2 separate regions of the Homo sapiens genome follow, and region 1 is linked to region 2. The links come from fine-mapping of genetic effects on gene expression. A gene starts in region 2. The other region holds a variant in brackets. All regions are shown on one strand. Distances are from middle to middle. Region 1 overlaps AQP11 (aquaporin 11). Region 2 holds the start of CLNS1A (chloride nucleotide-sensitive channel 1A).

The links.
Region 1: its variant is fine-mapped to the expression of CLNS1A in whole blood (TOPMed, PIP 0.94).

Annotation. Positions count from the first base shown.
Region 1 is chr11:77,610,206-77,613,111 of GRCh38, forward strand. AQP11 (aquaporin 11) reads left to right here. Exons shown (of 3, transcript NM_173039.3): 3 at 1-151. Among named protein-coding and RNA genes, the nearest start is that of AQP11, 22 kb to the left of the region's middle. The variant G/A (reference allele first, on the strand shown) is at 1,172.
Region 2 is chr11:77,636,283-77,639,188 of GRCh38, forward strand. CLNS1A (chloride nucleotide-sensitive channel 1A) reads right to left here and starts at 1,512. Exons shown (of 7, transcript NM_001293.3): 1 at 1,308-1,512. The coding sequence starts at 1,432. RefSeq lists enhancers at 1,240-1,759, 1,414-1,653.

The DNA of each region.
Region 1 (2,906 bases), 26 kb before region 2:
CAACTTCAATCCAAAAATTCTTCTCGGTCACGATTATGACTAAAGGGAAATCAAGGGTTCATAGAAACATTAAATACTTTATAATAACGTTAAAACTTGTTTAGAAATTAACTAGTATTTTTTGAGGTTTAAAGAACCTTCCAGTTTTACTATATTAGAAGGCTTCTTTTATTGTATGCGGTCTAATTTTTATTAAAAGTTCAGGCCATGAAAGGTTAAGTATGTATCCCTTCAAAGGAAATTCCATTATCAGAGTTAGAATTGAAAGTAAAGGCTGGGCACGGTAGCTCACGCCTGTAATCCCAACACTTTGGGAGGCCGAGACAGGCGGATCACGAGGTCAAGAGATTGAGACCATCCTGGCCAAGATGGTGAAACCTCACCTCTACTAAAAATATAAAAATTAGCCAGGCATGGTGGCGTGCACCTGTAGTCGCAGTTGCCAGGTAATTTAAGTGCTGCTTGGTGACCAGCTTGTAGACAGTCACTCTATTTATACCTGCAGACTGAACAGGTGCAGCCTTTTGCCAAGTCTACCCAACAAGGCAGCCAGCTTTGTATTTTAAAAAGCAGAGTTCGGCCGGGCACAGTGGCTCACGCCTGTAATCCCAGCACTTTGGGAGGCTGAGGTGGGTGGATCACAAGGTCAGCGATTCAAGACTAGCCTGGCCAAGATGGTGAAACCCTGTCTCCACTAAAGGTAGAAAAATTAGTCAGGCATGTTGGTGAGCGCCTGTAGTCCCAGCTACTCAGGAGGCTGAGGCAGGAGAATCGCTTGAACCTGGGAGGCGGAGGTTGCAGTGAGCCGAGATCGTGCCACTGCACTCCAGCCTGGGCAACAAGAGTGAAACTCCATCTTAAAAAAAAAAAAAAAAAGAGTTCACAAATGTGACTAAATGGCTAAATGCAGTCTCTGACTTATTTTATTTGGCCTCACAGTAGTTTTTTTAAAAAGTCGAAATTAAGTAAAATCCATAGTTCTAGCTGCTCTTAGAAAAACTCCAAAGACCTTGCAATACTAGGCCTGAATTCTGCCATACAACACAAAATAATGGTTGTTCCCTTTAAAATGGTCCCGTCTTGCAAACATGAAGCTAAGTTTCACTTACTGTTTCATGGCTGTTTTTCTTATAGGAATATGCCTTTTTACATCTCTAGCATGAGGACTTCT[G/A]TGGGTTAAGAAAAATGAGTATTAATTTGTGAAAATGCCTAGCCCTCTGAACTTCCACTGTCAGACTTTGGAGTTTGTGAGTTCTGATGACACTGCTACCTCTATAGCCCTCTCAAGTAGTGGCTCTTTTCTCTCCCACACCTAGTATACCACTGTGCCTGGAGGCAGAGTAGATTTCCTTGTCCTCAATGTCCTCAATGGATGCTTGTCCTCATGGGATGCTGCTCATCCATTCTCCTCTGCTTCTTCCATTAAAAACATGTCATCAGTTACCTGGGTACTTGTTGCAGTCTTCTAGTATACAGTCCCCTCAATTTCCCTTTGTTCCTTTCAGATCTTAGTTCCTGTCTCACTCTCTACCATCACCACAGTTATACTTCTTGGTGACAGATACAAAGATGATCCTTCCAGCTGCACGGCCTTGGAGTTCACTGGATCTCTCCTTTGAAAATTTTGTCTTCTACTTTGCCTCAGCTGCAATTTTGGTGGTAACTTTGAACTTACTTACTACCAATAACTGAAATCTTCTATGAACTCAGACACCCTACTCTCTAACCACTGACCCCTTTTCAGCTCAGTCTCTCTAGGACCCCATCTCCAGTGATCCTTTGACCCCCATGTGGAACTTCTGTCCACTGATAACACCACTTTTTCACATCTCTCACCCCTCTCAAGTACCCTCTTCTCCTTAAGCAGCTTACTTGGCCAGTCATCATCACATGCATACACCCTTAACTCCCTTGCTCCTCTATCTCATACTCACAGAGCTTAGCCTCAACTTGATTAAATCCAACTGTTTGCTTATTCCATGCCTGCACTTGTGCAATAGAATAGCAGCTTTTTTTTTTTTTTTTAAAGATTTGGGGTTGTAGTAGACAGCTGTACATTTTTTGCAATCCAGCATCTAAGCATCCTTCTTACCTGGGGTACTGTGAGCATCTGCACAGCGGCAGCGTCCTTCCACTGTAGAAGCTGAAAGGCCCAGATACTCCTTCTGCCCTTGGCAATGAAGACACACAGTGCCAACCAGAAGTTTGCATCTTAAGTGTGGTGACTCACAGACACAGGGACAATCAAGAAATCAGTCTAACAGCAGCGGAGGAATCATAACATCTTATGTAGATTTCATCTTTTTATGAGCCTGGCTTATTTCAACTTTCCTGTCCATTTAGTGAGCTACCAGATAGCTTTCTAATAAAAATTTTCTGCTTAGGCCAGGCACGGTGCCTCACGCCTGTAATCCCAGCACTTTGAGAGGCCAAGGCGGGTGGATCACCTGAGGTCAGGAGTTCAAGACCAGTCTGACCAACATGGAGAAACCCTGTCTCTACTAAAAATACAAAATTAGCAGGATGTGGTGGTGCATGCCTGTAATCCCAGCTGCTCAGGAGGCTGACGCAGGAGAATTGCTTGAACCCGGGAGGCGGAGGTTGTGGTGAGCCAAGATCACGCCACTGCACTCCAGCCTGGGCAACAAGAGGAAAATTCCGTCTCAAAAAAAAAAAAAAAAAAAAAAATCTGCTTAGTCAGACTTGGATTTACAATCATAATTTGGGCTGATGCAGGGTCATAATTTTATGAACATAAACTGCTACACTGTCCTCATTTGTACTGTTTAGAGGCTTAGACTGCTATATTTTGTGGGAATATATGTTTACCTTTTTTCATAATTCTGTCAGCTATTTACTGCTGCTACTGATAGAACTACCTTTTTCTCCTTGTCAAACCCATTGTG
Region 2 (2,906 bases):
ATCTCAAACTCCTGGGCTCAAGCGATCTGCCTGCCTCAGCCTCCCAAAGTGCTGGGATTACAGGTGTGAGCCACCGCGCCCGGCCCAACACGGTCATATGTACAACTACTCCACACATGTCCTGACCAAACTCATTATCTGCCTCTCACCTCAATCTTGCTTTTCCTCCCATCCATATGTCCTATCTCAGTTTCTGGCCTGAAGCCTAAACCTTGTTCAATGTCTAAATTTCCCTTTAAAGCAGAGGTTCTTTACAGTTTTTGTGCTCTGGATTCTGTAGTAGGCAGAATTTTGGCCCCACGACCTTCACTTTCTGGTGTCATGCGGGTGAATATGTTATATTACACAGCAAAAGGGACTTCACAAACGTAATTAAGGTTACCAGTCGACAGTAACATAGGGAGATTATCCTGGATTTTACAGGTGGTTCCAAAGTAATCACATGAGCTCTTAAAAGTAGAGAATTTTCTCTGGCTGTAGACAAGTGATGGAGCAAAAGGGGAAGCAACACATATCTGAAGGGCAGGAAAGATTCGATGTGTCATTACAGGCTTCAAAATAAAGAAAACTGCATGTCAAGGAAACAGGGACCTCTGTTCTACAACCACAATATTTACGGTAGATCTATCTGACTGTCAAAATACCAAAGTGCTCCACGTGGCCAAATAAAAGGGCAATTCCTTCCAGGACCCCAAAACGGGAGTCTGGTCCCTCTGCATATGACCCCTGTCTGTGTCGAGTTAAGGGTGTTCCTCTCCTTACTATACCTACAGAAGAAAATCTTTATTGTGTAACCAAACTTTAAAAGTCCTCCACAGTCGGCTCTGAAACTACGTATCCCAGAGAGGGGAACATCTCCTGCATCTGTTCATCCGGAAAGACAGGCACACTTCAGACCCTTAAAACCAGACCGTGCGTTAAGGGCAACGCACGCGCCAGACCTCCAGTAAATAGGCGAGTTAAAAAAAAAAAAAAAAGAAAATAAAAGAAAGAAAGAAAGAAAAGAAGAAGAAAGAAAGAGAGAAAGAGACAGAGAAAGAGAAAGAGGAAAAAAAGAAAAAAAAAAAAAAAAAGCACAATCCATAAGGGGAAATTCCGGCCGGAGAAAACAGAGAATGGAAGACTCCGGAGGAGTACTAGAAAAATCGAGCCTTCCACCCGCTACAGGTATCCCTGAGGCGTCGGGCACGAGACCCCGCTCCCAGCAGGCCTCCAGGCCGCCCCTTGCCCGGCTCCTTCGCACCGCCTGCTCCAGCAAGGAGGAGGGCGGCGCGCAGGAGGCCAGCGCTGGGGACCAGGAACCCTACCTCTCAGCGATGTAAAGGGTACCAGTGCCGAGGCCCTTCCCGTTCAGCACAGCCTCAGTGTCTGGCTGCTGCCGCAGGAGCCCCTCCGCTGGCCCAGGCGGCGGGAAACTTTTGAGGAAGCTCATAGCAGCAGAGTGCGGCAACACAGGCCCTGAGGGAGTTGGAGCACAGCAATGCGTGCACCACACCGCCCGCCCTGGAAGAGGCAGTCACCCCGGAAGAACAACTTAGTCTGCCCCGGAATCTGAACGCCGTCGACCATAGAGATGAGACATTCTAGGAAAAGCGGCGGAGGTCGGCTAAGAACGTGTGGAGTTTGACCGCGCAACACCCTTCCCCTTCTTCCTCGCCATTTCTGAGGCTTTGGGCTTCAATAACTGAGGGTTCTGTGGGAAGTCCCTCAGGATTGTCACAGTGAAACCACCACTGCAAAATTATAACTGAGACACTGAAAGCGATCTGACCTACCCAAATCCATGTTGTTTCTAACCTCCAAACTGTCCTTGTTCATTGCTGGATATAGGCTGAACTAACTTTGGGAGGAACTTAGTTTACAGTTTGAAGTTTAAAACAAAGATGATGACAGCCTTTTCCCAAAACAAACTTCCTTCTTGCCTGGGGACTGGACTGCCTTTGTAGGACTAACAAATCAGCCACAAGATTAGAAATTATGGTTTAGATTAGAAATTACAGCTGCAAGCTACAAGATTCTGACCCTCCCTAAACTGCACCTAAGATCGGTGCTTGAGATATGTTGCAGACCCTGCACTTGATGGATCAGCTGGCACCACCAGATGGATAAACTGGCTATGTGATCTTGTGCCCCCTCCCCACCAACCCAGGAACTGACTCAGCGCAAGAGGACAGCTTCAACTCCCTGTGACTTCATCTCCCACCCAACCAATCAGCACTCTTGACTCACTGGCCTTCCCCAACCTGCCAAATTATCCTTAAAAACTTGGATCCCTGGCTGGGCGCGGTGGCTCACGCCTGTAATCCCAGCACTTTGGGAGGCCGAGGCGGGCGGATCACGAGGTCAGGAGATCAAGACCATTCTGGCTAACATGGTGAAACCCCGTCTCTACTAAAAATACAAAAAAATTAGCCGGGTGTGGTGGCAGGCGCCTGTGGTCCCAGCTACTGGGGAGGCTGAGGCAGGAGAATGGCGTGAACCCGGGAGGCAGAGCTTGCAGTGAGCCGAGATAGCGCCACTGCACTCCAGCCTGGGCGACAGAGCGAGACCCCGTCTCAAAAAAAAAAAAAAAACAACAAAAAACAAAAAACAAAAAAACTTTGATCCCTGAATGCTCTGGGAAACTGATTTGAGTAAAAATAAAACTCTAGGCCGGGTGCAGTGGCTCATGCTTGTAATCCCAGCACTTTGGGAGGCCGAGGCGGGCAGATCACGAGGACAGGAGATCGAGACCAGCCTGGCTAACACGGTGAAACCCCGTCTCGACTAAAAATACAAAAACAAAATTAGCCGGGCGTGGTGGCAGGTGCCTGTAGTCCCAGCTACTCGGGAGGTTGAAGCGGGAGAATGGCGTGAACCCGAGAGGCGGAGCTTGCAGTGAGCCGAGGTCGCGCCTTGGCACTCCA